Linked DNA regions of Homo sapiens: region 2 is linked to region 1. Evidence: fine-mapped expression QTL. A gene starts in region 1. The other region holds a variant in brackets. All regions are shown on one strand. Distances are between the middles of the regions. Region 1 holds the start of DENND2C (DENN domain containing 2C). Region 2 has its middle 23 kb from the start of BCAS2.

The links. PIP is the estimated chance that this variant, and not a neighbour inherited with it, causes the effect.
Region 2: its variant is fine-mapped to the expression of DENND2C in whole blood (TOPMed, PIP above 0.99). The same link has a PIP of 0.9 or more in T cells and blood mononuclear cells.

The regions. Positions count from the first base shown.
Region 1 is chr1:114,662,075-114,678,749 of GRCh38, forward strand. It overlaps DENND2C (DENN domain containing 2C), which reads right to left and starts at 7,975. Exons shown (of 21, transcript NM_001256404.2): 1 at 7,909-7,975. AMPD1 (adenosine monophosphate deaminase 1) reads right to left here. Exons shown (of 16, transcript NM_000036.3): 8 at 16,259-16,453; 9 at 15,836-15,967; 10 at 15,277-15,440; 11 at 13,803-13,929; 12 at 13,456-13,619; 13 at 12,678-12,798; 14 at 11,835-12,008; 15 at 11,565-11,675; 16 at 11,024-11,198. The coding sequence ends at 11,040. It overlaps LOC124904354 (a long non-coding RNA gene), which reads left to right and starts at 8,337. Exons shown (of 2, transcript XR_007066465.1): 1 at 8,337-8,576; 2 at 8,775-8,880. RefSeq lists a silencer at 7,979-8,068 and an enhancer at 8,189-8,348.
Region 2 is chr1:114,550,431-114,567,105 of GRCh38, forward strand. No RefSeq gene overlaps it. Among named protein-coding and RNA genes, the nearest start is that of BCAS2, 23 kb to the right of the region's middle. The variant C/A (reference allele first, on the strand shown) is at 8,361.

The DNA of each region.
Region 1 (16,675 bases):
TTTAAATAGGGCCCAGGGAAAAGGAAATTTTCAGTAAATACTGTTGTGGAGCAGCCTATGTCATTTCCTCACAGAAGGCTCTATTATTATAGCCTTAATAGATCCTTATTTAATCAGAATATCAAAGAGTACAGATAAATATTTAAATACAAAATTATGCTTTACACTGCTAAGTAACCAATTCAAACACATCCCACACAGCTGGGAGATTTTGTTTTTTACTCCAACAGAAAAAAAGACAGAGAAAAATGCAAATCCCTTTTAAGTAGCAGCAAAAATAACTCTCTCTCTCCCCCACCAATCTGTCCCTGAATTTTAACATCCAAACAAAAAATCCGCAAATATGTCATTTCTATGAATTCAAACTTGAAGGAAAAAAAATAATAATTTCTCTCCATATCCTTTGTTGTAAATATTTATCACTGCTATGAAAACTACGAAAGTTAGACATTTAACTTTAAAAAGTACAGCACAACCTTCAAATAATATAAATGGATTAATATTGCCAGAACTAAATGCTAAAAACTCTGTTTTCACGCCACTAACCAGAAGTCTAAGATTCATAAGAAAAAAAAAAAAATCTTGAATTTATTCCTCAAAAATAGGGGCCAGGCATAATGGCTTCGTACCCCCAGCGCTTTGGGAGGCTGAGATGGGAGGATCCCGAGGTCGGGAGTTCAAGCCCAACCTAGACAACGTATTGAGACCCCATCTCTACAAAAAGTTTTTTAAAAAATTAGCCAGTCTTGGTGGCGTGCACCTGTAATGCGAGCTAACTGGGAGGCTGAGGTGGAGGGATCGTGTGAGCCCAGGGGTTGGAGGCTGCAGTGAACTATGATTGTGCCACTGCACTCCAGCCTGGGTGACAGAGAAAGACCAAGAAAAGAAAAGGAAAAGGAAGAAGGAAGAGGGAAAAGGAAAGGGAGGAAGGAAAAAAATGGGTAAATACCTGGAATAGATAGATGTGAAAAAGTCAGTCCTTTAAATTTTTTTCTCTTATCATCATCTACTTAATCCTTCAGTCTTATAATTTGCTATACTGCTTATAAAGTGAAGACATTATCATGTTTTCTTTTCTTTAGGATAAAACTTATTCATTCAGGGCAGAAGAAAAAGAGAATAAAATTCCATCCTGTCCAACCCTCTGGGAACCAGTGCAGAATACCCCTTCAAATTTATCTTTTATTTCACCCAGGTTTCAATGTCCCCACTTTCACTGAAGCGAAAAGATCAATGTTTTATTGATTCAGTAAAGAACACTGAATATCAAAAAACATTTTTCAAACATACTTTTTTATTCTGACTCTGTACAAGTTAATCTATTTCTCTGTATCTAAAGTTCCAAACCAGTAAAGGGAGTATTTTCCATTTAAATGAGAAATGGGGGATGAATGAAAATGTTTTAATTATTTTAAGAAATGTACTAGAATTTAAAAACAGGAGGTATGATTTCGAAGAACCATGATTTTTTTTTTCTAAACCAAGCTTACGAATTCAAATATTTCAAAGATCCGTTAAGGTTGGCAGACTATGGCCTACCTGTGGGCCAAATTTGGCCCACTGCCTGTTTTTGCAAGGCCTCTGAGTTAAGAGTGGTTTTTACATTTTTTAATGGTTGGGTGGAAAGATCAAATAAGTATAACATTTTGTGATGTGAAAATTATATGAAATTCAAATTTCAGTGTCCATAAATAAAGTTTTATTGGAACACAGTCCATGCTTATTCATTGAAGCGTTGTCTATGGCTGCTTTTTGGCAGAATTGGGTAGTTATGACAGAGACCGTATGGCACACAAAGTACAAAATATTAATATTTGCTATCTAGCCCTTTACAGAATATTTGCTAACCCCTGCCTTAGAAGACCATACTGCTATTCTTTTTTTTTTTTTTTTTTGTCTTGTCACCCAAGCTGGAGTGCAATGGCACGATCTTGGCTAACTGCAATCTCTGCCTCCCGGGTTCTAGCAATTCTCCCACCTCAGCCTCCCAAGCGGCTGGGACCACAGGCATGTGCCACCATGCCAGCTAATTTTTTAAAATTTTTTGTAGAGACGAGGTCTCCTTATGTTGCTCAGGCTGGTCTAGAACTCCTGGGCTCAAGTGATCTTCCCATCTTGGCCTCCCAACGTGCTGATTATAGGCATGGGGACACAGTCTTTTGTTGTTTTTTAAGCTTTGTCTATGACTTCCAAGAACTAAAGATCCAGTGATGGGATAGGAATATGCTTTCGAAGCTTTGATTGATTGTGAACGGAAGCTGGGCACAGTGGCTCATGCCTGTAATCCTAACACTTGGATAGGCTGAGGCAGAAGGAGTGCTTAGGCCCAGAAGTTTAAGATCAGAATGGGCAACACAGTGAAACCCCATCTCTACAAAAGAAAAAAATTTATGTATTTATTTATTTATTTAAATTTTTTTGAGATGGAGAGTTTCGCTCTTGTCTCTCAGGCTGGAGTACAATGGCACAATCTCAGCTCACTGCAACCTCCACCTCCTGGGTTCAAGTGATTCTCCTGCCTCAGTCTCCCAAGGAGCTGGGACTACAGACACGCGCCACCACATCCAGCTAATTTCTGTGTTTTTAGTAGAGATGGGGTTTCACCATGTTGGCCAGGTGGGTCTCAAACTCCTGACTGAAGTGACCCACCGCCTTGGCCTCCCAAAGTGCTAGGATTACAGGTGTGAGCCACTGTGCCTGGGCAAAAAAAATTGTTTTTTAATTAGCAGGGGGTCAGGCCGGGTGTGGTGGCTCACACCTGTAATCCCAGCACTTTGGGAGGCCAAGGCGGGTGGATCACCTGAGGTCAGGAGTTCGAGACCAGCCTGATCAATATGGTGAAACCCCATCTCTACCAAAAATACAAAAAATTACCCAGGCATGGTGGTGTGCGCCTGTAGTCCCAGCTACTTGGGAGGCTGAGACAGGAGAATCACTTGGACCTGGGAGGCAGAGGTTGCAGTGAGCTGAGATCACACTACTGCACTCCAGCCTGGGCAACAGAGAGAGACTCTGTCTCAAGAAAAATAAAATAAAAAATAAAAATTAGCAGGGGGTGGTGGTGCATGCCTGTAGTCCTAGTTTCTCAGGAGACTGAAGCAGGAGGATCCCTTGAGCCCAAGAGGTCCAGGCTGCAGTGAGCTATGATTGCATCACTGTATTCCAGCCAGGGTAGCAGAGCAAGACCCTGTCTCTTGAAAAAAAAAAAAAAAAAGTAAATAAGTTATATGTGCCATGCAAATAAAGAGACAGAAAAACAATTCCATAATAAAGCCAGAAGATCTACGTTCTTGTGTAGCTGTGAATTTGCTATAAAGCTTTTTACAAAGAGAAGCTCCAATAATACTTTGGGCAATACAGACAGTCCCTGACTTAATGATGGTTTAAATTAACAATTTTTCAACTTTATGATGGTGCCAAAGCAGTATGTGCTCAGTACCCTCCTTAACTTATGATGGGGTTACATTCGGATAAACCCTTCGTAAGTTTATCACATGTTGACTAACAATATTTTCAACTTATGATGGGTTTATTCAGACATAACCCTATCGAAAATTGAGGAGCATCTGTACTTCTGGAATAAATGAGTGACTTCCAAATGAAATTTTAAAAGAACAGGACTCATTTGGATGTAAAAGTTGTTCAACTTTCAATTAAAATCCATTTCATTGCTTTATAATAATAATTTGTTGGACAAAATTAGCATAGATAAATAATTCCTTCTACTTACATAAAGCAAATCATTTATTCTTGGCCCTCTTCTCTTCTAATTCTACATACTCCCTTGAGCAATTTCATCTGCTCTTACGGCTTCAATTAACACTTACTGGCTACCTCTGAAATCTGAATCACCAATTTTAGCCTGGCTTCTGGACTCTAGATCCTCTCTCGACATCTCCACTTGAATGCTCCAAAGACAATTCAAACTCAACATGAATTCAAAATGGAAACAATTATCTTCCTCCAATATTAAAAAATAAAACAAGACCCTTCATCCAAACAGTTTTCCAAGCTAAAAAACTAAGTCATTTACTTTTCTGTTCCTCTTTTGAGCCAATTGATTTTAAAGCCCTGTCAAATTCTACACCTTCACTATCTATCCTCTCCTCTCCATCCCTATTACTATTTTCCTACTCCAGGCCCCTATCCTCCCTTATCTGGACTATTTCAATAGCAACAGCCTCCTAACTTATCTCCCTACCTTTTGTCTCTCTTCATCCAATTCAGCCTCCAAACCATTTTCAGCTTATCTTTCCTAAACACCTATATCTAAAATCCTTCACTGGCTCTCCATTGTCTTTAGAATCAAGTCCAAAGTCCTTAGCACGATACTCTGGCTCTTCAAGACCTAGCATCAGAAGACTTTTTTCCCTCTTTTTCTGAATCATAACTTTTTTTTTTAAAGACAGTCTCACTCTGTTGCCAGGCTGGAGTGCAGGTGCACGACCTCAGCTCACCGCAACCTCTGACTCCCTGGTTCAAATGATTCTCCTGCCTCAGCCTCCCAAGTAGCTGGGATTACAGGCACACGCCACCACACCCGTATAATTTTTGTATTTTAGTAGAGATGGGGTTTCGCCATGTTGACCAGGATGCTCCCGATCTCCTGACCTCTTGATCCACCTGCCTTGGCCTCCCAGAGTGCTGGGATTACAGGCATGAGCCACCACGCCTGGCCCTAAATCTTAACTTTTTACTTACCTAAGTCTGTAATGTTATCTTATATCTTGTACTTCAAAGTATTAAAAGTACCTTTAACACCATATTTTTTAGTGAAACATTCTGCCAAACTGAACTAATTACTCATTTCATTGTTCCAAATGAAGGGAAGTGAAATACCACATTACCTAGCAATTTTAGTGATCCTAATGCAATCAGCAAGGAAGCTTTGCAATTTTATTTTTTCATCTTATTTCCAGGCACCATCTCCTTTAGCCAAACCACCCATTTCTACACACCCTGGCCTTCAGTACAATGGACTACAACACATTCCTCAAACATACCATATACTTGCACACTTATCCCTGGTTTTCATTCATATCTCCTGTTTCCTGACCCAATTTCAGCAAACTCCTATTCATCCTTCAAAGCCAAATTTAATATCTTCTCTCTAATCGTCCTCCCTACCACACGCAGAATGATTTTTCCTCATCAGTGGTTAAATTCTATCTATACTTCTTTCTTTTTCTTGCAACTCTTCAAACGTACCTAAATCTATACTTCTTTACAGCTCTTATCATGCTGAAATTGTAGAGCCTTATTTACATGTTGGGTTATAAGCTTCTTAAAGACAGGGAAGCATTTTCTCTTCTTGAATCTAATACTTAATTTACAGTCTGAGAACAGATATTTTTAACTTCTTAATGAAAGAAGTTATGAGGTGCTTTTTAATGAAAAATAAGCACCTCATATTGTTAAGATAATGCCATAACTGTTGTTACTGAGGGACTGAGAGCTTAGAATCATCCCCATGTCATTCACTGGCAACAATAACAAAAAAAGGGTTCCCACAGATAAACTATAATTACATCGTTTTAATTGCAATAAAACTGGTATTGCAATACCAGTTTATTTTTTCCTCTTTCTTTCCTTCTTTTTGAAATAGTTTTTTATAGACCTCTTTTTAAAATACCTATTAGATGTCATTTGTATCTCACTCACAGAATTTGAAACTCAGTATAGCGCAAAGGTTACAATCAGGTCCTTGGAGAATGACTGATTTGAATCCTACTTTTGCTATCTAGGTTGTCTAATCATGGGCAAGTTACTCAACCTCTCTATGCCTCTTAATGAGATAATCATAATAACATCCCTCATGGTGCTGTTGTGAGGATTAAGTAAGCTAATACATGTAAAGAATTTAGAATACTGCCTGGCACAGACTAGGTACCAATGAATGATAGCTGATGTTGTTATTGTTACCATCCGCTTTAAAAACAGCTTTTGTTTTTTCAGTACTTATTTTAGCCCACTTGGTAGAATGGAATCTCCTAGATGACAGGAATTACATACTGCTCTTACATAAATATAATCTTGTGCCTATTGTGTAGTAGGCCCTCAAAAAACAATGTGAATGTAAGGTTTCAGACCTCCAAGATCAAGAAATTGTAAATCACAGAAAAATTTATACATGGAGTACGTTTAAAACTCATGTTTTAAAGTAGCTTCAAAAGACCCATCCTCCACTGAATTGCTGAAACATGTTTAAGTAAAACTTCTAAAGCAACACACACAAAAATTACATTCACTAGTAACTTTCCCTCTACTACTTCATTTAATTTGATCTTGGTATCCAGTGGTCTAAAATTCTTGCCTATAACTTAAGACTCACTACAGACCATTTAAAAGTAATATAATTTCCAGCTTTAGAAAACTGCTTATTGTCATTAAGAAAAATAAATATTCTTCCTTTATTGCTGCATTTAAAAAACGTACTGCCACATTCAACACACACACACACACACACACACACACACACACCCCAACTAATGAAAGACCAAGACACATAATTACTACATTTCCTGGTTTCTGCCTGGCAAACTCAGAACAGGCCTACAAGTATCCCCAGCAAAAGCCTACAGGTTACAAAACTGCCATTTTCTTTTTTATTTCCCATCTCCCCGCTAAAATCCCTCGCACACATATCCATAGTAAAGAACAAAAACGTCTATAATAAAGGCTGTATGAAAAAATATGGCTATATATTAACAATATTTTGGAAGATTTAAATCTTCCTATAAGCAGCCCGTCAATTCACAAAAACAAATTAAAGTCTTGATTTGGAACAATATTCCCAGCTTACTTTAGCAGGTATCTTAAACTACAACTATTTAGCTAAGACAAAGAAGTAGATTATTTGATTGCTACAGACTTCGCGGTAAATGATTCAGCAACAGTGTATAGATAACACCACTGTGCTATTCTAGAAAATTTCATCAATCATTTAAAAATAGGACACACTCAAACAATGGGGGTCACTTTGTGGGAAAAGTTTAAACAACTTATTTACACAGTAAGCAAGGATCTATCACTTTATCTAAAACACTGCAGAAGAATCACTAGCTTTAGGGTAAACGTTTGTAAAGTGCCTACTATGTACCAGGCAAGTAGTAGTTGCTTCACAGAATATACACGCTCCACACGCACGTTCAAATATCTGACATTTGTAGAATACTGTCACTCATCTGATTTGACCCTGAGAATACCCATAGGCATGAACTTGCCAGTTTCACAGTTACGGAAAGAGAGGCCCAGGAAGTTAATTTGGCCGAGGTATCACATCTGGTTCCGCGGGTTCTGGCCCTAGACTTGAGCCTTTTGACTCATAATCTAATCATCAGCTGCTATACAGCTCTAGTTACTCAAAAGCTCTTAGGTGTTCCACTGTCAGACTTTTAAATTAAAATTCTACTTGACAACTTTCGGTATTGTGCGTATTAGATGCTGTTAAGAATCAAAACACCAAAAAAAGCAAAATATTGTTTGGAAGTGCATCGTCCCAGCATGTCGAAGTTCAAGCTCACTGGCTAATTTTGGAGAAAGCCCGCGTTTCCCCAGGCTGCCGGGCGCTCCCTCCCTCTTCCCCAGCAGAGAGCGGCGCCCAGCCTAGGGGTCCCCAAGCCCCTGAGGTAGCGAGGAGGTCTTCAGCCAGGCTCCGCCACAACCCGTGCGGCCACGAGAGGACGTCCCAAAGCTGGGCCCAACAACCGGTTGCTCCTCCGGACGGAGGAGGTGCCGAGACAGCGGGGCGCGGAGACACCACCTCCGCCAGCTCGGCTCGCACCGTCCGAGGACTACGCCGCGGCGCCACAGCCCCGCACCCGACGCCCAGAAGGGTGATGCCGACAGCCCCGAGAGTCCGAAGCCCCTGCGGCTTAAAACCCCGCGCCGAATCACCCCGACTCTTACCTGTCTGTACCTCAACGTTGTCTCCTGTGGCCAAGCTAGTCTCCCGGGTATCACTCGGGTCCGCTCCGTCCCGCCCCCGCAGGCCCTGCCGAAGGCCCCGTCCCGGCTGCAGCCCCACCCCCTAGCCCCGCCCTCCCTGGCAAGGCTCAGTTCTTATTGGCTCCTATTCCCACCCCTCACGCTATGCCCGCCTCCGACACCGCCCCGGCCGGCGGTGAGGGGAACCACCACGCCTCAAGTCCGCTGTATGGCCAGAACCTTGCCAGGACCTCGGTCACTGCAGTTCCAGCAGGCGGGCGACCAGTGTCACCGTCGTCCGGCCAAGCCCTCGAGCCAGAGCTCCATCGCCTTCGCCTGCCGTCGCATCGGCCCCACGGAGACGGCCCTATGCTTCATGTGAAGGTTTACTCTTCACAACTACTCAACAAGATAAAGCCTGGCTTAATCAGGGAATCCAAGCACTGTTTCCTAGGCTGACCTCAGTGAGCAAACAATTGCACTACGGTGCCAACTTGAAACGTCAAGAGAAGCAAATAACTCTCGCGGCACCTCAGGCTTGGAATCTCAGAACGGGGGTGCCTTGATACTCCCAGTGCGTGAGGTCAGCCCCCACGCCCTGTTGAGACACACATGCCTAAGCGCTCCGCCTGCAACACGCTCTTGCTTAGGTATGTGCGTGGTGTTGTGCCTACTGCAAGCTGTAACCCAGTTTCACCGAGGCTGCGGGACAAGGATCAGTTGAGCCTGTTTCCCAGGCACTCGCTAACCACCCCACCCCGCCTCGCCCCGCCCCACCCCACCCCACCCCACCCAGCCAGAGCCTCTTGGGTCTGGTGACCAAACTCTTCCTACATTTGTTCACACAGAGGTACCAAAATAGAAGACTACCAGAAAGAGAGGTGTTTAGTTACGTATCACGGATGACTGTCACAAGCAAACTTAACCCAAACAATAAAGGTAGCATATCCCAAACCGTTGTGAAACTATCACCTGTAGACAGTAAAACAGAAATTACATTCTATGATGGGGGAAAAAAAAGTAATGACATACTTAAAAAAAATCATGTCCCAATGAGGAAATAAATGTGGATATTGTTTGTAGTAAATTTTGCACACTGATCATTATGGGCTTCCCCCACCAAAAAAAAAAAAATTCTTATATAATGTGTCTATCTATTTATTTATTGAGACAGGGTCTCTTTGTGTCACTCACACTGGAGTGCGGTGGCCCAATCATAGCTCACTTGAAGTCTCAACTTCCTAGGCTCAAAGAATCGTCCCACCTCGGCCTCCCAAGCAGCTAGTATTATAAGCATGCACCACCACCCCCGGCTAATATTTTTATTTTTATTTTTTTGTAGAGACAGGGTCTCGCTATGTTGCCCAGGCTGGTCTCCAACTCCCGAGCTCAAGCAGTCCTCCTGCCTCAGCCTCCCAAAGTGCTGGGATTACAGACATGAGCCACTGCACCCAGCCCAGAAATGTATTTTTTGACCCCTGCATTCAGGAAGATTATTTGGCAAAATAAGGCAGGTTGAATTCCAAGTATCACGTATGAAACCAAATTTATAGATTAATAAATGAATTCACATGTATGTATTCTACTGCCCTCTCATGGGTAAGATGGAGATATACATAATGGTAGTTAATGCCCTTTGAAGTCTGAGAATACAGTGTTTAATGTAGCAATTTGTACTATTTTGATGATGAGGAGGCCAAGGTAAAATAAAATCTGGTTCTTTAAAGGGTTCACAAATACTCAACAAACAAAACTTCAACTTCAGAAATCAGGAAGAGATTCTTACACCAGAGCTAGTACAAACATGCCATCAGGGTTACACCTATGCTTATGGCTGCATGTGTAGAATATAGAAACGTGCAGAAATTTGCTTTCAATTTTTTTTCCATTTGAAAGTTCAGGCTGGGCACAGTGGCTCACGCCTGTAATCCCAGTACTTTGGGAGGCCAAGGCACATGGATCGCTTGAGCATAGGAGTTTGAGACCAGCTGGGGTGACATGGTGAAACCGCGTCTCTACAAAAGGTTCAAAAAAGTAGCTGGGTGTGGTGGCATGTGCCTGTAGTCCTGGCTACTCGGAAGTCTGAGGTAAGAGGATCACCTGAGCCTGGGAGGCCGAGGCCGCGGTGAACTGTGATTACACCACTGCACTGCACTCCAGCCTGGGTGACAGAGCAAGACCCTGTCTCAAAAAAAAGAAAAAAGTTCATTACTTTTGAAGACATTTCACAAAATTCTATTTTTTACTTGTAGCCACACTATAACTTCATGCTGAGGACAACTAGAGGATAGGAATGAAATCTTATTCTGTATACCTTTGGTGTTTAGAATAGTACCTGATAATTTAGCTATTTGATCAATAATTGTTTATTGAATAAGTTGAATGAAATGTCAGCCCAGCCACTAGATGCCAACACAGTTGTATGTGTGGAAGTATCATCTGCCCATTTGGAATTTCACCTGACCTTAAGTAATAGGCATGCTTCTTAAAAGTTATATGTACATTTTACTTTGGTAAGCAAAATCATTTAAAATGTACCAGTTTAGCTCACTATAATCTTATTGTCAATTACATCCTTAAAGCTAAGAATCCTTTTGTAAGATAAATTCTCCCTCAATATAATAACTCATAAATACTGATTTTCTATATTGAGGTACGCCCTCTGGTTTTGTCTAAAAAAGCCACTATTCACTTATACCTTGTCAAAGAACTTTTTAGTGGTTCTAAGTGCCTTAAGCAAATTTCATGCTATAAACCAGAAGCCTATCTCCCAAAAAGTCATTTGCTTGTATTTTTGCCCAGCTTTAATAGATATTTTGCCTGAAAGTCATAGAGACTGCAGTCAGAGAAACCCACGTTCCCACTGCTACCCTTCACCAGGTATATCCTTGTGCAGGTTATTAACCTTATTAGCTTTAGTGTACTAATTTCCCCCAAAATGGAGATAATAATATCTACTTTATAAAGGTTGTGAGAAGGATTAAATGAAATAATTTCAGTGGAACATCTAATACTTTCCTTGGTTTATAGTAGGGACTCAATAACAGGTAACTATTATTATTCAAACTCTACAATGAAATTCTCACTCATATTATTATTTGGTTTACTTTTTTTTATTCTGTTGATTTAAGACCCTCAGCAATTAAATTGAGTTCATAACACCAGGTTTCATAGCGATAGGCCATGCGGATTTGGGCTACATTTGTCCTCCGGATATCATTTCCAGCAGGGCCTTCCTCAAGGTAATTGTCGCCCAGAAACTTTACTTTCTCCTATAAGAGAAAAGGATGGCAGAATGATTGTTGTCTCTTTTCACCCTGGTATAGACAATAATTGCATTCTTTACAAAAATTCCTTCCTTATGTTAGCCACTGACAAAAGAATAATAATAATAGACCATTAAAAGCACCCATCTAGTGCCTCAGTGTTCACAGTCTGCTGAGAAATCAAGTGTATTTTACTTCCCTGGCCCAAAAGGCACAGGCAAAGAGATAGAATAATCCCTTCTAGTCCCTGTCCATAGTAACTGCATATGATTCGTGGAACAATTTTTCTACATGTGTTTCCCAACTACTTTTTCGGTATTCAAGTTAGCAGACCCTATACTCAGAAGGGAAGCCATTTGAAGACAGGTCTACCTCATGAGAAATTCCACACTGCAAGACACTGTTCCTTGCCACTTCGCACATATCACAGGTGCTCAGCTTGAAGACTTGTGCAGCAATAGCATATTCTTCCATTAGGGGCTCCTGCAGTTATATTAAATGAGGAAAAAAGAGGAGTGAATTAATAAATAATATGCATCCTGCCTGAAAAAATAATGAAATACCTTTATTTGACTTTCAAATTCTGGACGGGAAACAACAGTCCAGCAAAATATGCTTGTATTGCCCAAGTCCATACTATACCTTGGTAAAGTGGAATTGCATTGGGTCATCTGTAGACAGTGAGATCATTAGCCCTTTCTGAAGGAAATCCAAAAAAGGATTTTTGGCATACTCTAGAAATAGGCTATTGTTACTTAGTGGTGACATGGCGATGGGAATTTGGGCTAAGAAAAACAAGTACTGTAGCACGGGACTCTGAAAAAGAAAAGTAAAAAAATATTTAAAGATGTTGAAAAAGGAATACAAACTAGAAACACTACAATCTCATGGTCTGCCTTAAGCTTCAGCTTTCAACAAAATTATCACTTGTTCTTCAAGTCTCTTAGTAAGGAGAATTTAGGAGTTTTTCAATGTAAATGCTATTTAGAATAAATGTACTTAGGATACATTAATTTTCAGAAACATTGAGTCAAACCAGATTGTTTATTTGATCTATAATGGCCTACGTTAGATGGTCTGTCTCAGGCAAAAGACTTTGCCTTGAAACATTATTTTTTCTCTCTCTCTCTACAAGAAAGTTCTGACTCTCACAAAAAAACATCTTGAAGCATGCTATAACAAGAAATCTGGCAAAAACTAGCTTAAGGAAAGCCAGGCCATCTCTGAATTATCCCTTGTCAGGATTCTAAGCTAGAAGTCAGGAGATCTGCGTTAACTTTTATCTGACAGCAACTAGCAAGGTAATCTTGAGCAAGTCCCTTTACTTCTTTCTGTAGAATGAACTGCACTAAACTAAAAAATCTTTTATGCTCTACTTGATTATGATTGCAGTGTCGATAATGACTTGTGACAGTATGGTTGGTTAAGGGAAAAAAGATTCCTCTAGCTCCAATGTAAAAGTTAAGAAGAGAGCTTCCAACTCACCTTTTTTAAATTTAGGCCATGAGAGATATCATCTGCTATCATGAATGCTGTCATGAGATGGGTGAGGGCTCCAGCTTCTCCACAGTGAGGTCGGAACAGAAACGTATTCATGCCTCGTTCCCTGGGGAAATAGAACTGCTATTGGAATCGCAGGTTCTGGGTATGGAGTGATTCACAAGAAAATTCAGTAGAAAAGTGAACACTCTGGAAGGAAGTAAGCCATCCAAAGGATTCAGCAAAACAGTCCCAAATCATAATCTTAATTCTTGCTAAATACAAAGTTTCCAAAAAGAGGCAGCAGAGGATATGGGGGTAAGGAAGCAAATAAAGTGTTGATTGCCTGGATGGAAATACGTTCAGTCTCAATAGGAAATTTACCAATATCAACATCTCATCATTTATTCTATTCTATTCAAATTTTAAGGGAGAAATGTTTCCAGAAAACTCCAGTATAATATTCCTCTACTTATTCCTTACCCAAATATATCAAGAAGGGCAAAATATATGAAGTTTTATCATTAATTGCACAATGATTAGTATAAATTCCTAAACTTCCCAAAAAAAAAGGAACTGTGAAAGTTATTGAAAGCATCGAAATACCGATTTCTGCCCCAAAATAAATAAACTGAAGAAAAAAGTTAAGAGAAAGAAATTTCTGATTTGGGCCAATTGGAACCATCACAGTAATGCATGAGGCCCCTGACCACCTTAATTGCCAATATATGTGGAAAGAGCTGTGTCAAATAGACCCTCCTAGCTCCAGCTGTCTCCTACTTACTTTCTCAGGCTGTTGAGCACCATGATGTTTGCATACATGTAGTAGGCATAGTAAGTGTAAGATGGATTCTTTTCCAATGTCCACTCCTGGGGCTTGGGACTCTTGGAGGAGAACATGTGGCCACTGTGTTTGGACTCATCATCCACACTGTCAAAGCCAGTGATCTGTTAGGAAAAGTGAGCCATGCAATGGGTTCAGTCCAACTTCAGGGTCCCAGTCCTCACACAAACTTTCAGGTCCAAAGGCACAGACCAAACATAAAGAGATAAGCACCAAGAATTAGTCATGACCAGGTAGGAAGGCTGGTTCATGAGCAGCAGTATGAAGGCCTGAAGGGTCATGCTTACATGCTTGAGGAAGACACTGAGTTCTGGGTCAGCCTGGGGGTTGATGGTGGCCTCAAACACTGGCATGAAAATATTCTCCAGCATTTTTCCAAAATGTGGAAGGAAATTCTTGGAACGGAACACATCACTAGAGGCAAGAATGAAGAGAATTTAGGAGAAAAAAAGATTTTTAGGACTGATAGCCCCAGTATGAGGGAACCAGAGAATCGAATGTCATGCACAGGAAAAGACGTGGTATATCTATCCTAGGTCCATGCTCCTCATACATTCTTTTTGGTCCCCTATAGAGAGGGATTCAGTTTGGGCAGCACATAGGAAATAAAAATTTTTTGGTGGACCCTATGTCCCCATCTTTTTTACAAACCTTTGTCATAAGAAAACTAAACCTTCACAGCTAAGTCCTCATAGAGGAATATGCAATTACGTCATAAAAGCTTCAATATATGTGTGTAACTACAAGACAGTGAACAGGAAATGATTACCAAGAATACCTCTGATCTGCAATTTAACAAACTCTGATATAGCATTTAATATATTCCAAGCACTCTTCTAAGTGACCAGAAATATTAGCTAATGTAATCCTCATAACAACTCAATAAGTTAGGTATTGTTTTTAACCTTGTTTTAGAGATGATGAAACTAAGGCACAATGGGGTGATATAACTTAACCCAAGGTAACACAGCTAAATGGTTGTGTTACCTTGATTTAAGTATTGCCAGGATTCAAGTATCACCACTCTGGGTCCAGAATCTATACTCCTAACCAACCTACTGCCTCTCTGCCTATTAGGAAGTATTATCCCAGTCAAAAAATTACTTTTTTTGGTTAAAGAGACAGGATGAAACTCTTGCATTGCAGTAGGTCACACAGAACACAAAGACAGGTAGCCAGAAAACATATAAACACCCAAGTTAGATAAAAGATCAATGATACTGAACAAACTGAAAGAGAAGCCATCCCTGAAGGCGATGAATGATAGCAGGTGGTATGAAAGGGAGATGATGTCCTCAGCAATACCATTGATAAATACTCATTGATTGTGGAGAACTTGAGCACTTGTAGGTGGGACAATTGACAGACAGTAGTAAAGGTTCTGATACAAGAAAGCCACATCCCAGTAGAGATGAGCATGGGAAGGAATGGACTTGACACAGAGAAGACCAGGTGAAAGAAAATGTATACCAAACTGTACATAGTTCTTATTCTATCTTAGTTTTAATCATTCTCAGTGAGTTATTTATGATCTTCATAAAGCTAGAGGACTGATCCGAAATGATCTTCTTAACTCCTGTCTGTGGTTAAGAGTGCTGTACCCAGAGTGGACAAAACCAAGCATGCAGGACCCGATAGTGAATGCTGTTTTAACAAAGCTGATTTATTTCTAGATGGGCAACACGTTCCTTGTTCATACAGGGGACTTGAAGCAGATGAGACAAGGGCAGGCTCTAGAGTTTCTGATGGGCAGGTACATACTAGATCCTGGGAACCTGGATCATCCATGTCATGTTGGGGCAGTGGATGCGATTGCAGACGAACCAGGAGGAGAGTTTGCTCCACTCATCAGGACTGCGGCCATAGATGGACAGGCGGGGCTCAGCATGCTGGTACTTGGCCTCCACCAGGTCCGCACCTACCTCCTGCAAAGCCAAGAGAGAAGTCCAAGCCAGGGATTCCCACAAGTTCCTCTGGGGTTCTAGGGAGAGGAGATTCCCTTTCTAACTCTTCCTTTCAGAATCTGAAAAGGCTAGGTCCTTAATCAATCTCAAAACCACACCCTTAATTTCTCTACCTTAGCAATAGAGGTCTTCAAAAATCATTAGAGTGGATGTGTCAGAGGAAATCCTTATATTCATTTGTGTAGTGTTTGGCCCCAGGGATCGCTCCCTCCCTCCCTCCCTTCCTTCCTTCTTTCCCTCTCTCCCTCCTTCCTTCCTTCCTTCCTTCCTTCCTTCCTTCCTTCCTTCCTTCCTTCCTTCTTCCCTTTCCTCAAGAACCATGCCAGATACCATAGATGTGATTGGTTCCGCCTCACCTTGATGATAGTGGCAAAATATTCCCCATTAATGTAATTGTCTGTCTTCAAGTAGAGGTCCCGTAGCTCACTTGCTCCTACAGGATTATATTTGTCATTGAACTTATCAAAACGCTGGAAGGTCTGGCGTCCCTGAATCAGGAAAAAAGAGCAGAGATGTATTATTACCAGAGCTGTCTGGACAGAGAGAGCTAGGAAATAGTCAAGCAGAACTGGGGTCTGGTAGTGGGGGAGGGCATTGGGCTCCAAGAATGGAATTTGGGACAGGTGACAATGAGCAAACTTCAAAATTGTCTGTGGTGCTTTCAGGCAGCGTGGTAAGCCAAGATGGTTAAGAGACCTCTGAGAAGGGAGGGCTTGTAGGAGAAAGACATGTGGGGTTCTGAGTATTAGAGTGAAACTGACATTGCCGTTTCAACCTACAGCATGAACATCCAGAGAATCAACAGTCAGGTCATAAGGATGCATTTTTAATTTAGCAAAAAGTTCCTTTAGGGTCAGATTCTTCTCTTTGGTGCTATAGACCACTCTGTCAGCATCAATTTGGTAAGATTTCTTAATAAAACGCAGCAGATGTTTCTGGTTCATGCAAGCGGCTGCATGGATATGGGTGTCCACCTGTATGTATATTCAAAGAAAGAAAAAAACATCAATCAGCCTTAGTTATGCTACTCTGTTTAGAGGATATGGTGCTGCAAATCCCACTGCGTTGGGACAAAGTGAATAATGAGGATGTGAGCTGACAGTTGGTGGAGGTGGTCCAGCAATAAAAAATCCATTACAACTGTGGCGTGCCCATGCAAGGATGTGAAAGGTTAGGCTAGAGGCAATAAGAATGCT
Region 2 (16,675 bases), 110 kb before region 1:
TCTTTAATGTAGGTAAACACACAAGAATTTTAACAGCTTGAAAACATAGAGGACACAGCCGCATACTCAGATAGAGAGGTCAGCTTCCCTGCTCTGCAGGTTCCCCCCTGAGGTCAGATGACTTTTGCTGAATTTACCTGATGAGGGTTGAGATACCATCAGATCTTTCAAGAAGCTCTCTTGCCATTCTCTTAGAGTTTTTTTTAAAGCCTTGGTTCCCCTCTAGCACTGGAAATGGTAGCTATGTGTCTGCCTGCTCACTAAGTGCAAGTAATTGGTGATAACTCCAGCCCATTGCTGAATGTGAACTTGAGAAAAGAAGGCTGATTTTTCAGGCGTACCATCCCTCTTAAAACCCTAAGTTTTAAGTTGGTCAGAGGATAACCTTTGCAATGTAGACACTAGAATTTGTTCAAAAAGGGTGAATAGGATCTTTTTTAAAAAATGTAATATATAAAAACCTTTTAAATTATTAGATTGTCTCATTTTAAATGTTTTCCCCATTTTGTGGTTTTTAAAAATTATGGTAAAATATACGTAACGTAAAATTTACCATTTTCTACATTTTTAGGTGTACAGTTCACTGGCATTAAATACATTCATATTGTTGTGCAACCATCAGCACCATCCATCCAAAGAACTTTCATCGTCTCTAATTAAAACTCTTCTCTACCTGTTAAACAACTCCTCATTTCCCATTTCCCCAGCCCCTGGCAACTCTCATTCCATTTTCTATCTCTATGAGTTTGTCTACCCTATGTACCTTACATAAATGCAAATAACCTCTTAGTTAACGTGAAAATTAGTAAAAAGAGATGTGACTATATAGAAAAAACATGTAATTGTGTTTTTATGTGCAAATGCGACGACAGTGTGTGTGTGTGTGTATATATATATATATGCTATTTTGCAACTTCCTTCACTTAGCAATATAGTATTGTTATTTGTTATCTAATGCTGCATAACAAATTGCTCCAAACCTTGGTGGCTTAAAACAACATTTATTATCTCACAGTTTCTATGGATCAGGAATCTGGATGTGGCTTTGTTGGGGCTCCTGTTTCAGGATCTCTCAAAAGGCTGCAAGTCAAAATGTTGCCCAGCAGGAGGATTGCTTGAGCCCAGGAATTTAAGGCTGCAGTGAACTATGATCACACCACTGCATTCCAGCTTGGGTGATAGAGTGAAAGCCCAGCTCAAAAAAAAAAAAAACAGGCCGGTGGCTCACGCCTGTAATTCCAACACTTTGGGGAGGCTGAGGTGGGCAGATCACTTGAGGCCAGGATTTCGAGACCACCCTGGCCAACATGGAGAAACCCTGTCTCTACTAAAAATACAAAAATTAGGCCAGGCACGGTAGCTTATGCCTGTAATCTCAGCACTTTGGGAGGCTGAGGTGGGTGGATCACTTGAGGTCAGGAGTTTGAGATCAGCCTGGCCAACATGGTGAAACCCCGTCTCTACTAAAAATACAAATATTAGCAGGACGTGGTGGCATACACCTGGAATCCCAGCTACTCGGGAGGCTGAGGCATGAGAATCACTTGAACCTGGGAGGTGGAGGTTGCAGTGAGCTGAGATCGCACCACTGCACTCCAGCCTGGGCGACAGAGCGGGACTCAGTCTCAAAAAAAATAAATAAATAAAATAAAAATAAAAATTAGCCAGGCATGGTGGCAGGTGCCTGTAATCCCAGCTATTCAGGAGGCTGAGGCAGGAGAATCGCTTGAAACCCAGGAGGCGTACATTGCAGTGAGCAGAGATTGTGCCACTTTACTCCAGCCTGGGTGACAGAGTGAAACTGTCTCAAAAAAAAAAAAAAAAAAAAGAAAAGAAAAGAAAAGGAAAGGAAAAGAAAAAGTGTCGCCTGGGACTGCAGTAGACTCAGGCTTGCTCATGTTGTTGGCAGAATTCACCTTCTCCCAGGCCATTGGACCACGGAGTGCAGTTTTGCTCTGGCTGTCTGCTGGAGGCCACCCTCAGTTCCTTGCCACATGGACTTCTCCATAGGGCAGTTCACAACATGGCAGCTTGCTTCATCAGAAGGAACACAAGAGTCAGAGAGTGAGAGTAGAGTGAAAGTCAGTCTCTTATCATCTAATCTCAGAAGTGACTCTCTATCACTTTTGCCATATTCTACTTGTTAGACGCAAGTCACTAGGTCCAGCCCACACACACAAAAGATGATACAACGGTGTTAATATCGGAGGCAGGAATTGGGAGCCACTGTAGAAACTGCCTACCACAAATATCTTTCTGTTACCAGCATATATCTCAACTTCATCCTTTTTTTTTTTTTTTTGGTAATAGTTACTCTTTTTTTTTTTTTTTTTTTTTTTTTGAGAGAGGGTCTCTGCAGTACAGCGGCACACTCACAGCTCACTGCAGCCCCAACCTGCCAGGCTTAAGTGATCCTCCTAGCTCAGCTTCCCAAGTAAGTGAGACTACCGGCACATGCCACCAGGCCTGGCTAATATTTCTATTTTTTGTAGAGACAGGATCTCGCCATGTTGCCCAGGCTGTTCTTGAACTCCTGGACTCAAGCAATCCACCTGCCTTGGCCTCCCATAGTATTGTGATTACAGGTGTGAGCAACTATGCCCAGCCTACTCTATTTTGAGATAAATGTCTGCAACTTAAAAAATTTGTATAAAGATGAATATACCTCTGCATCATGGAGAAGACTGCAGAGAGCCTACTATCCTTAACCTCTTCCTTGAAGGATAAACATAAATTCATCAAGAAACAAAGTGGGGAAGGTATTCCAAGGAAAGAAAAAAGCACATGAAAATGGGTAAAAAATGGAAGGATGCATCATGGTGGGTGTAGAGAAACAGGAAATTTTTTCTTTTCTTTTTCTTTTTTTAGATGTGGATTCTTGCTCTGTTGCCCATGCTGGAGTGCAGTGGCATGATCATAGCTCGCTGCAGCCTTGATCTCCTGGGCTGAAGCTGGCCTCCTGCCTCAGCCTCCTGAGTAGCTGGGACTACAGGCACGTGCCCACATCCAGATAACTTTATTTTTTTGTAGAGACGGGATCTTGCTACGTTGCCCAGGCTAGCTTTAAACTCCTGACCTCAAGTGATCTGCCTGCCTTGGCCTCCCAAAGTGTTGAGATTACAGGTGTGTAAATCTCTAATGCCTGAGATTACAGGCATGAGCACGTCTGGCTGAAAATTTAAATATGGTTTGAGGAAGGGGTTCAGGCAGACGAGATTTACAAGATTTGGAAATAATAGCAGCATCTAACATGTGCCAGGCACTGTTCTATGCATTTAATGTGTAATAATTTATGTAATTCTTACAACAACCCTATCAGATACAGTAGAATTATTGTGCTAATTTTCCACCTGGAAAACAGACACAGAGAAGTAAATAAACTTGTCTGATATCACATAGCTATTAAATGACAGTTTGACTCCTGGCAGTTTGACTTCACTGCTAGGTTCACTATCTGCCTTTCTTTTATTTATTTAATTTTTTTTAAATAGAGACAGGGTCTCACTATATTGCCCAGGCTGGTCTCAAACTTCTGGGCATAAGTGATCCTCCTGCCTTGGCCTCTCAAAGTGTTGGGATTACAGGTGTGAGCCACCATGTCTGGCCACTATCTGCCTTTCTCTTAAAAACTTTGTATGCCATGGTAAGAAGTTTAGATTTTAATTTTAGGTAACAGGCTGGGCGCAGTGGCTCACACATGTAATCCCAGCACTTTGGGTGGCTGAGGCAGGCAGATCACTTGAGGTCAGGAGTTCGAGACCAGCTTGGCCCACATGGCAAAACCCTGTCTAGGCTAAAAATACAAAAATTAGCCAGGCTTGGTGGCAGGTGCCTCTAATCTCAGCTACTCAGGAGGCTGGGGCAGGAGAATCACTTGAACCCAGGAGGCAGAGGTTGCAGTGAGCTGACATTATGCCACTGCACTCCATCCTGGGAAACAGAACGATACTCTGTCTCAAAAAAAAAAAAAAAAAAAAAATTGGAACAAAGAGCCAATGATTTTTAAGCAAAGGAATGGCTTTATTAGATTAATTTTGGGGGAAGATTACTTTGGTACCAGCTTTGAGGGTTAACTAGTAGAACAAGAAAGTTTATAAGGAGAACAAGGAAGAGACTATTCCTATGATTCAGAGATGAGGAGGACCTGAATTCATGACAGGTGGCAGTGAATACACAGATCAGGATTAGTGTGCCATTTCCAAAGTAAATGAATAGGATTTGGTGCCCAGTTGGATATAAGGATTAGGGAGGAGTCAAGGACAACAAGTCAAGTTCGAGAATCTTGCAGAGCATCCAGGTGGAGCTGTCAGTCGCAATACTGCTGGGGAGAGAGATATGGCTAAAGATACAGATTAGTGAGTCATCCACTTCACTGGTGGTAATTAAAGTCTATGGGAATGGATTGCTCAGGTTAGCTGATCCAAAACAGAGCCTTAGGGAACACCAGCATTCAAGCAATGGGCAGAAGAAGAGAAATAGCCCATGAAAATACAGAGAAAGATGGGTAAAACAGGTAGGAAGATAATTAAAATACTAAACAGAAAGCAATAAATACCATAAAAGAGGTACAAACAAAGTAATGTGGGAGTTCAAAGTAGGATTACAACTTAATCTGAGTCTCTGTTAACTCACCTGTAAAATCAGGTTGGACTAAGTGATCTCTGAAATCACTTTTGTCTCTAAACCTTTGAATCTATTCAGTGTCTACCATGTGCCCATTAACATGATAGATGCTATGGAAAGAAAGGCACAACCCCTACTCTAGAAGAGCTTTCTTAATTTAGTTTTTTGTTTGTTTTTAGAGATGGAGTCTTGCTCTGTCACCTAGGCTGGAGTGCAGTAGCGCAATCCTAGCTCACTGCAGCCTTGAACTCCTGAGCTCAAGCGATCCTCCCACTTCAGCCTCCCAAGTAGCTGGGGTTACACACACGCACAACCATGCCTGGTTAGAAGAATTTTCGGTTTACTGGGGAGCTTAGTCTCTGCACAGCTACTGAAACAAAACAAAACAAAAAAACTGGACAAACAAAACCCACTGGAGATGGAGATCATTTATAATTAAGGGTTGAATTTTGTGGCATAGCCTGTGGGCTGCAATCCAGAGAAGGAAGGTGTAATAATATGTGTATAGAAGCTTCGTGGAGGAAGAGAGTGGACTTGGGCTGGATTCAGATAGAGAAGAATAATGTGGGCAGAAATAAAGGTATGAGTTCACCTACCTGATAACTTGAAGACCTCGGCTGGGAATTCATGGGAAGTAAGGTTTTAGATAGGTAGCACAAGGCCTACCTTACTAATCAACTTATATAACTTAGTTGGGACTTAGAATAGACATGGAAGCAGTGGCGAGCTACTGTAGGTTGTTGGGCAGGTTTGTGATGTTTATTGTACGGGATATATTGATAGCTATTTTTATTGCACAAAATGTCTATCGCTATGATACGTTTTCCCATCGCCAATTTCACACTACAGTGGCTGCTGTGGTGTGCTGCCCAGATCACCTCGCTCCAGGTCTGATGCATGCATGCATGCCCCCACCTTCTGGGAGAGTAGACGGCTGGCAACTCTCAACTAAGTCCTTCTCCAGGACTTGCGCTCAGCTGAACAGAACCACTTTGCCTAATGTCCCACCACCTTACCAGGAGCAGTGCACATTAATGACTGGTTGATGAGCTTTACAAAGGCCCAGCCTCCCCACCCCAGTTCAGAAAAACCTTGAAGTGTCCTCCCCCTAGCTTCAGAGCCTCCTGGCTGAGGCCTTTGTTGCAAGTGTAGCACAGTTCATCTCCTGCTCAATCCTGCTTCCTTTGCTCTCAACAGGTGTTGATCCCAAGAATACTTCCTAATAAACTTCCTACATTCTAATTTCCATCTGTTTTCTGGGGAATCAAACTGAAACATACATGATAATTACGTTCACTCAACTTTTCACTCAACTTTTCATCTATGCTACTCAACTTTTTCATCTGTGGTACTCAACTTTTCATCTATGCTACTTAACAATTAAACTGTAGAAACATTTTATGAGCCCAGATTTTGGCGTGAGGAATGTTCTTTAACAATTTTGACATTTGTAGTTTAGAACACCAAGATCTACCTTTTATAAAACCTGCACTCTCTAAAATCGCACACCCATTTTGGCACTATACATTCAGTTCAGTTTTTGTGGAGACAGTAGTAGATACAAATAGCTAAGCATATGTAAGGAATATCAATCAAAAGGAAATAATGAATTGGTGGTAACTATGTCTTAGCAGGATATACCATAGGTTGATGGAGTGCATTGCTCAGTGTCTTGTATAGTAATACTCTTGGAGACACCAGGTACTCCACGGAGGTAGTCCACAACTGGAAATTTTACAGAGTGTTGTTTTGGATCACAAAGAAACTGTGACACCATTTGATTTTTTTTTTTTGCGTTTATCCAAAATATCTTAATCTATATACTTGGCACTTAGCACTACTTAAAAAAAAAATCACCAACTATGACACTATCAGGCAGCTCTCAGCTAAGCACATTACTCTCCTTTAGTTTAAAAGCTTTAGAACAAAGTTCAGAAATTTAAAACTTGGAATAAAAATGGGCAAAAAAAATTGTAAAGTTGGTGGTAATAAAGTGATCAGCATTGTTAGAATGGTTACCTCAGAGTGTTCAGAACATCAAAGTACCCCTGCAAAACATCTTGCTGAGACAATTGGTCTTGCAGCTTTTTTGGGGGGCGGGGGGGATGGAGTTTTGATCTTGTTGCCCAGGTTGGAGTGCAATGGCGTGATCTCGGCTCACTGCAACCTCCGCCTCCCAGGTTCAAACGATTCTCCTGCCTCAGCCTCCTGAGTAACTGGGATTACAGGTGCTGGCCACCATGCCCAGCTAATTTTTGTATTTTTAGTAGAGATGGGGTTTCACCGTGTTGGCCAGGCTGGTCTTGAACTTCAGACATCGTGATCCACCTGCCTTGGCCTCCCAAAGTGCTGGGATTACAGGCATGAGCCACTGTGCCCGTCTGGTAGCTCTTAAGAGGGAAAGATGAAGGGTGAAAAACGAGAAATTGTCCGTCTATATTTCCAATGGTCTATGTCCTTTTAAAATTTTTAATTAATTAATTTTTTTTTAAAGACAGGATCTTGCTCTGTTGCACAGGCTGGAGTACAGTGGCATGATCATGGCTCACTGTAGCCTTGAACTCCTGGGCTCAAGCAATCCTCCCACCTCAGTCTCCCTAGTAGCTGGGATTATAGGCATGAGCCACCCTGCCTGGCTCCTACATCACTTTTTTGTCCTTATGACATCGGTTTTTAAAAATGTCCTTTCCTCTGTTTGCAAAGGGCAAAAATAAAACCATAATAAAAAATAAAGTAAAATGTACTTTCCTCAACACGATTAAGAGATACAGTTTTAGAGACAAATAACATTCAGTGCTCACTGAAATTATCAAATTTTTAATATGGAAATAGATGGGTTTATATGGCATTCTTTATAATACAACAAATTCTGTAAAGGGAAATATATTGAAAATGCTGGGTCTGTAATTGACAGATTGCCAAAGAATAAATTATATCCTGTGCTGTAATTATGTATTCAGCAATAATGAATACTAGGAGAAAATAGCAAAGTAGTAATTATACCAATTACAATTGATTAGTTGGTATTAACATAAAAAGATGTGCTCATTGTGTTATACTCTATTATGTCACAAAAGGCTCTGATGTATTAAAGATAGTTGATTTCTTTATAAAGTCCCTTTTTATAATTGACTAAACTCAGTGAGTTTGGAAGGAAACTGGGAATTTGTATAATTACTCATGATAAAAATTTATTATGCTACAATTTTCATTGTTTTATGCTACTGTAGTTTCTAATTTTCTAATCTGTTTTTCCTGTGTTATTGGTATACTAGCACTGCATTTAAAAAAATGGAACAAAGTAATCCAAAAGAATTGTAATAACTAGAACTCATAAGTATCCACTATTGTTTATTTTTTGTTAGAAATTGAGATTTAAGGTGGCAAGGTAATTGCTACTCTATATAAAGTAGAGCTCTGTTTCTTTACAAATCTCCAAAGTGTGAATTTAACAATTTAGCAGGACTAATTATTTTAGACTTCTGGTGAGTTGGACGCACTTCATAATTTTAACAATAAAAGTGAAGTCTATGTGGGATTAAATTTAAACTCTGAAAAAAATGCAAGGATCCTTCAATATATGAAACATCAGAGTAAATTTAATTATCTCAATTTTCTCAAGTCATGTAATGGAAAGCAGGCAGGTATAAATTGCTGCTGCATGGGTAATTTATTTCACTTTTTAATGACCTTGTGCCCTCTATGGTCAAACAAGAATACTACAGGAAATAAGCAGG[C/A]CCTCTTTTAAAAGTAGGAGAGCATAATAGATAGCAGACTGAAAAGAAGATCTTGAAACTTAGTGAAAAGCCCAAAATAGAAAATAAGCCAAATAACATTTAAGTGTGACTAAGAAGATGTTCTTAGGGCTAGTTTTAGTGAGTGGTAAAATTTAATTGTAATTATAAGCAAAAGTCTAATATATATGGCCATTGACAGAATTCAATTTAAGACCACTTTGTTGTACACACATCAATAGCGTATTCCTTTGAATGCATTTAGTTGTAAAGTGTGGAGGAAGAAGGGAACACTGAGCTAAGATGAAGCTGAGCTTTTTATTATCCTGAATTATGTACCCTTAAAGTCCATATCTAAATTCCTTGACCAAATGTTTTTAAGATCTAGAGAAAAAAAAATATGTTAGAGAAACTGTTGGCTGAGTGTGGTGGCTCACACTTGGAATCCCAGCACTTTGGGAGACCAAGGTGGGTGGGTCACTCGTGCCCAGGTGTTTGAGACCAGCCTGGGCAACATGATGAAACCCCATCTCTACAAAAACCAGAAATATTAGCTGGGCATGGTGGCGTCTGCTTGTAATCCCAGCTACTCGGGTGGCTGAGGAGGGAGAATCACTTGAGCCCGGGAGATTGAGGCTGCAGTGAGCTGAGATTGTGCCACCACACTCTAGACTGTGCAACAGAGTGAGACCCCGTCTCAAGAAAAAAAAAAAGATTTCTGGTTGGTAAAATGTGGTAACTAAAAGCAGAACTTGAAAGTTGCACACATCACTTCAGTTCCTATCTCATTGGACACAACCTAGTCACACAGCATATGTACATGGTTGGATGGGAAGCTAGCAGTTAAGTTTTTAGTTGAGCATCCATATGCCCAGCTAAAACTTCTATTATTATAGGAGAGGATAACATATATTAGAGGGGCAAGTATGTAGTCCCTGCTACAGTAAGTCACTGAGACAACAAGTTCTGGGTTTACCCCTTTCCTTCTCAAAGACATGTAAAAATACAACCAAGTGAGATATGCATAGGGATCATCTTGAATCTGTATGATATATTTAGAAAGAAAGTTATTAAAAACTGCAGGTTTTGGCTGGGTGTGGTTCACACCTGTAATCCCAGCACTTTGGGAGGCCAAGGCGGGTGGAATACTTGAGGACAGGAATTTCAGACCACCCTGGCCAACATGGCAAAACCCTATCTCTACTAAAAACACAAAAATTAGCCAGCCGTGGTGGCATGTGCCTGTAACCCCAGCTACTCGGGAGGCTGAGGCAGGAGAATTACTTGAACCTGGGAGGCAGAGGTTGCAGTGAGCCAGGATTGCACCATTGCACTCCAGTCTGAGTGACAGAGAGAGACCTTGTCTCAAAACACAAAAACGAAACTGCAGGTTATTTATTTATTTATTCATTTAATTTTTTTTTTTTTAAGATAGGGGTCTTACTATGTAGGTCACAAGCTGGTCTCAAACTCCTGGGTTTCAGCGATCCTCTCACCTGAGCCTCCCAAAGTGCTGGGATTATAGGTGTGAGCCACCGTGCCCAGCTAAAAACTGCAGATCTTAAGTTACAGTGAATAACAAATTACTTGGCCCACATCTCTCAACAAACCACAATAGCCAGCTTATTGACTTTTATGGCTATTTCCCAGCACAAACTATGAAACAGACAGACCATCCCAGTTCTCCACTACTAAAATTATGCCATAATAAATATAACCTATTATATTTTTCTTTAGAAAGAAAAAAATCCTAGGGAGTAGTTGGGTGAACTGTTTATCATACTGGGCCAGCTAAGTGAAAGGGGTTACCTCTCTCTCTCTATTTTATAGAGACGAGGTCTTACTATGTTGGCCAAGTTGGTCTTGAACTGCTGGCCTCAAGTGATCTTTTCCCCTCCACCTCCCAAAGTGCTAGGATTACAGGCGCGAGCCACTGCTCCTGGCCAAGGGGTTGCCTCTTAACTCAGGTAAGATCCAGGGTGTAATAGACATGTTGTCATTATCTGCCCAACTACTTCCTCTCCTGATAGAAGCGCCATCCTATCTTACTTTGGGGAGCTATTACTCCAATCCAATCAACTGCCAAGCATAGTACTCTACCCTCAATTCTACAGGTATATGATCGATATCTGGCCAATCACAGTGCCCCCAAGTCCTAGCTATACTTCTGACTCTAAGGACTGAACGTGAAATTTAGAGCACATCAATCAAAATCCTCTGAAATAATATATACTGATATATTTGCTTCCTTCTAAGGCTGCTAAACTGAGATGATGTAAGTCTGGAGCTGCCTGTGGCTTTGGCCTCTGTTGTATAGAGGAAGCCTATTTGTAGGAGACAATATGGCCAGAAAGAGAAACAGAGAGATGAAAAACAGGACGACACGGGATCTCTGGAATTATTTTTTATATTTTATTTATTGAAAAAAAATTTTTTTTGAGACAGGGTCTCACTTTGTCACCCAGGTTGGAGTCAGCTGTGTGATCATAGCTCACTGCAGCCTGAAACTCCTGCCTGAACCTCCCCAAAGTGCTAGGATTACAGGCATGAGCCACCATGCCCAACTGGAATCCCTGGATTTAGTTGACGATGCAGCTAGTTCCACCTCTGTGCTTACAAATTAAATGAACCAATAAATCCCCCTTTACTGCTTAAGGTAGTTTTAGTTAGCTTTCTGTCACTTGCAAACAGACTTCTAATATCCAGAAATAGACTTCTAAGGATAGAGGAAGTGAAGTGGGTCTAATATAATAAATCTTAGTTCTCAGGGTAGAAAGCAGGGTGAAACAGAAATAGAAACTTCTGTTCATGAACAGGTTTACAGAGTGTCCCATTAGTCCAACTTATTTTTGATTCTATGGTATCCAACAAATTTGTATTGAAATTAAATGAAATGTGGTTTCTGTGTTCTTCTGGCACTAAATAAACATAGTACCTTGAGTGGCAGTCTTATGAATAATTTTCATTTTCTTTTTATCTGCATTTTCTGATTTGCCTATAATAAACATATGTAGATTTTTCACCATGTTAAATCAAACATTTATCATTATTCTTTATCAACTATTGTATTAGTTTCCTCAACATTTATCATCACTCTTTACCAACTATTGTATTAGTTTCCTATCAGTGCCGTAGCAAATTGCTATAAAGTGGGTGGTTTCAAGCAAAACATATTTATCATCTTACAATTCTGAAAGTCAGAACAAAGTGGGTCCGCAAAGCAGTTTCTCCTGGCCAACACTCTGATGGGAGATTTGTTTCCTTGCCTTTTCTAGTTTCTAGACACCACCTGCATTCCTCAGCTCATGGTCCCCTTCCTTCATCTTTAAGGCCTGCAGGTTAGCAACCTTTCTCCTCTCTAACCTTCCACCTTCTACCTCCCTCTTAAAAAGACCCTTGGAGGTCCACTCCAGACCCTGTTTGCCTGGGTATCAGCAGCAGTGGCCGCAGAACAGCAAATGGTGCTGCCTGATCATTCCTCTGGAAGTTTCGTCTCAGAGGGGTACCTGGCCGTGTGAGGTGTCAGTCTGCCCCTACTGGGGGGTGCCTCCCAGTTAGGCTACTCAGGGGTCAGGGACCCACTTGAGGAGGCAGTCTGTCCGTTCTCAGATCTCAAACTCCGTGCTGGGAGAACCACTACTCTCTTCAAAGCTGTCAGACAGGGACATTTAAGTCTGCAGAGGTTTCTGCTGCCTTTTGTTTGGCTATGCCCTGCCCCCAAAGTCTACAGTAACCAAAACAGTATGGTACTGGTACCAAAACAGAGATATAGACCAATGGAACAGAACAGAGCCCTCAAAAATAATACCACACATCTACAACCATCTGATCTTTGACAAACCTGACAAAAAAAAAGAAATGGGGAAAGGATTCCCTATTTAACAAATGGTGCTGGGAAAACTGGCTAGCCATATGTAGAAAGCTGAAACTGGATCCCTTCCTTACACCTTATACAAAAATTAATTCAAGATGGATTAAAGACTTAAATGTTAGACCTAAAACCATAAAAACCCTAGAAGAAAACCAAGGCAATACCATTCAGGACATAGGAATGGGCAAAGACTTCATGTCTAAAACACCAAAAGCAATGGCAACAAAAGCCAAAATTGACAAATGGGATCTAATTAAACTAAAGAGCTTCTGCACAGCAAAAGAAACTACCATCAGAGTGAACAGGCAACCTACAGAATGGGAGAAAAGTTTTGCAACCTACTCGTCTGACAAAGGGCTAATATCCAGAATCTACAAAGAACTCAAACAAATTTACAAGAGAAAAACAACCCCATCAACAAGTGGGCAAAGGATATGAACAGACACTTCTCAAAAGAAGACATTTATGCAGCCAAAAGACACATGAAAAAATGCTCATCATCACTGGCCATCAGAGAAATGCAAATCAAAACCACAATGAGATACCATCTCACACCAGTTAGAAGGGCCATCATTAAAAAGTCAGGAAAACAACAGGTGCTGGAGAGGATGTGGAGAAATAGGAACACATGTTGGTGGGACTGTAAATTAGTTCAACCATTGTGGAAGACAGTGTGGCGACTCCTCAGGGACCTAGAACTAGAAATACCATTTGACCCAGCCATCCCACTACTGGGTATATTCCCAAAGGATTGTAAGTCATGCTGCTATAAAGACACACGCACACATGTTTATTGTGGCACTATTCACAATAGCAAAGACTTGGAACCAACCCAAATGTCCAACAATAGACTGAATTAAGAAAATGTGGCATATATACACCATAGAATACCATGCAGCCATAAAAAATGATGAGTTCATGTCTTTGTAGGGACATGGATGAAGCTGGAAACTATCATTCTCAGCAAACTATCGCAAGGACAAAAAACCAAACACCGCATGTTCTCACTCATAGGTGGGAATTGAACAATGAGAACACGCGGACACAGGAAGGGGAACATCACACACCGGGGCCTGTTGTGGGGTAGGGGGAGCGGGGAGGGATAGCATTAGGAGATATAACTAATGTAAATGACGAGTTAATGGGTGCAGCACACCAACATGGCACATGTATACATATGTAACAAACCTGCACGTTGTGCATATGTACCCTAGAACTTAAAGTATAATAAAAAATATATATTAAAAAAAACCCAAAAACTTGATATGTATCCAAATTTAGCATGCACCATTTTCCTTAAACTTTACTATGAGATCCTGAAAAAAAAAAAAAAAAAGACCCTTGGGATTACATTGGATCTACCCAAATAATCCAGGATAATCTCACTTTAAGAGCCTTAATCACATGTGCAAAGTTCTTTTGCCATGGAAAGTAACACATTAACAGGTTCCAGGGATTAAGATCTGGACATCTTTAGGGGCCATTTTGCAGCCTTCCACAACTATCTACATGTAAATGAATATGAAAGGTAATTAATATAAAAACTGTGAAGTAAGCACAGCCTACCTTTGTAAATAAAAGGCACAATTTCAATGGTTGGATGAAAGCTCCCAAGGAAAAATAAGCTGGTCTGGCTTCAGCTTCCCTGACAGTCACAAAGCCTATTCTGGGGAAGTGAGGGAACAAAGCTTTAAGTGATTTCTTGGAAACAAAGGGCTTAATATTGTTGGGGTTTCTGGCCAGGCTGGAACATGCATTTGGCAGGCATAAATTCAGGGATGAACTCCTATGAATTTTCTACTTGCAAGCTCTCCAAGAGTAGGTACATAGTAGAACATTTCCAGCAGGTCAAAGAAGGAACAGGAACTTCATTAGAACACAGAACACAGTCTTGGGGACTCGGGAGAAAGGGTGGGAGTGGGGCAATGGATAAAAGACTACAAATGGGGTGCAGCATATACTGCTTGGGTGATGGATGCACCAAAATCTTACAAATCACCACTAAATAACTTACTCATGTAACCAACCACCACTTGCATCCCAATAACCTGCGTGTGGTGGGGAAGAACACGGTCAGATTGTGGGCCAGTTTTCCCCTGGGCTGTTTCTCAGTGTAAAATGATGGTACAACGATAGCAGCCATCTTTGTGATGACAGCTCTCATGAGCCACAGTGTTCCAATCTGAACCCGTTGCCTTCTACGGAGTGTACATATATAATCCTGACAGACAGCCCTTCACCAAGCTCTTTGGAAGAGTCCCGTCACTGCTTCCCTGTGTTTGGCTGGAAGAGCACACATCCTTCAGCAGCCCCTTGAGAAATGATATTCAGGAAGTAAATGCTTTTGAGATCTCATATATCTCCAAGTGTCTTTATTCTACCATAACCCTTGGCTTATAATTTGGCTATGTAAAGAGTTCTAGGTTGGAAATAATTTTTTGTAAGAATTCCAAAGGCACTTCTACATTATCTTCTTTCTAGCTTCCAAAGATGTTGTTGAGAAGCGTGAAGACATTTTGATTCTTGATCCTTTATATGTAACAATCCGCCCCTCCGTCCCCCCTACACGCCTGCAGAATCTTCGTGTGCTTGGGTGTTCTCATATCTCACAAGTAACATGCTCCGGAGTTGGTCTATTTTCATCCATTGTGCAGTGACCTTTTGACTCTGGAAATTCTATCAATCAATCAGTTCTGGAAAATTCTGAATTATTTTGATGACTTCTTCCCTCCTGTTTTCTCAGGTTATTCGGCTACTGACTTTCCAGACCAGTCCTCCTATTTTCTCTTCTCTGTTTTCCATGTTTGTCTTTGTTGCCTCCACTTTCTTTGAGTGTGTCAACTTTAATTCCTAACTTTCCCATTGAATTTTAATTCCTGCTACCATATTTTTTAATTTCGACAAGCTGTTTTGTTCTGTTTCTTAATAACATCTTATATATTATTATGGCTGCAGTATCTCCTCTGAGGATTTTTTTTTTGAGACACGGTCCGGCTCTGTCACTCAGGCTGGAGTGCAGTGTCACAATCATAGTTCATTAAAGGCTTGAATTCCTGGACTCAAGCAATCCTCCTCCCTCAGCCCCCCAAGTAGCTGAGACTATAGGCGCACAACACCATGTCTGGCTAATTCTTTTATTTTTTGTAAAGATGGGGGTCTCACTACGTTGCCCAGGCTAGTCTCAAATTTCTGGGCTCAAGTTATCCTCCCACCTTGGCCTCCCAAAGTGCTGGGATTTAGACATGAGCCATCACACCCAACCTGAGGATATATTTCTTAAAAACAATTTTTTTCTTCTTGCATCATCTATTTCTCCATAGTCTTTCCCAGATTTGTTTTACTCCTTATCTTTCACAATGTAGAACTGCCTTATCTGGTGATCCTCAACTGTCTATTCATGTTTAAAAGTCGGGAGCTAAAGCACGGTTTAGAAGCTGTGTTGGTTGCGGGGTGGTTTGTTGAGCCTCTCTGCTCTGTGTCCTGGCTTGGTCATTTGTTGGGAAACTCTCAATTTCAACAACTGTAGTAGGTCTTTTCTCTTAGGCTGGTCAGATACTCCACAACTCTTCCAATTTCCTTCTGAGAGAAGTTCGAGGGTGGGCAATGAAGAGATGGATGACAACACTCCATATGCGTTCATTCCTACAATCCCTATCTTCAACACAGAAATGTGGCTCTCGCTAGGCGTGGTGGCTTACACCTGTAATCTCAGCACTTTGGGAGGCTGACTTGGGCAGATCACCTGAGGTAGGGAGTTTGAGACCAGCCTGACCAACATGGAGCAATCCCGTCTCTACTAAAAATACAAAATCAGCCGGGCGAAGTGGCACATGCCTGTAATCCCAGCTACTTAGGAGGCTGAGGCAGGAGAATTGTTTGAACCCAGGAGGTGGAGGTTGCGGTGAGCCAAGATCAGACCATTGAACTCCAGCCTGGGCAACAAGTGCAAAACAAAACAAAACAAACAAACAAAAAGAAATGGGGCTCTCAATTGTATTAAGGTACTTTCGAAAGTACTAACCATTTATCAATATCACAGATCAAAAAGTTCTAGGTTTATTTTGTATTATAATGAACATCCTTTTATTTTTTCAAAATTGAAAAATAATTTTTAGATTTTTCAAATTTATATTTATCAGTTATTGAGATGAACACCTCTCAGTAATTTTTTTTTTTTGAGACAGAGTCTAACTCTGTCGCCAGGCTGGAGTGCAGTGGTGCAATCTCGGCTCACTGCAACCTCTGCCTCCTGGGTGTAAGCGATTCTCCTGCCTCAGCCTCCCGAGTAGCTGGGACTACAGGCGCATGCCACCATGCCCAGCTAATTTTTGTATTTTCAGTAGAGATGACGTTTCACCATGTTGGCCAGGATGGTCTCGATCTCTCGACCTCGTGATCTGCCCACCTCAGCTTCCCAAAGTGCTGGGATTACAGGTGTGAGCCACTG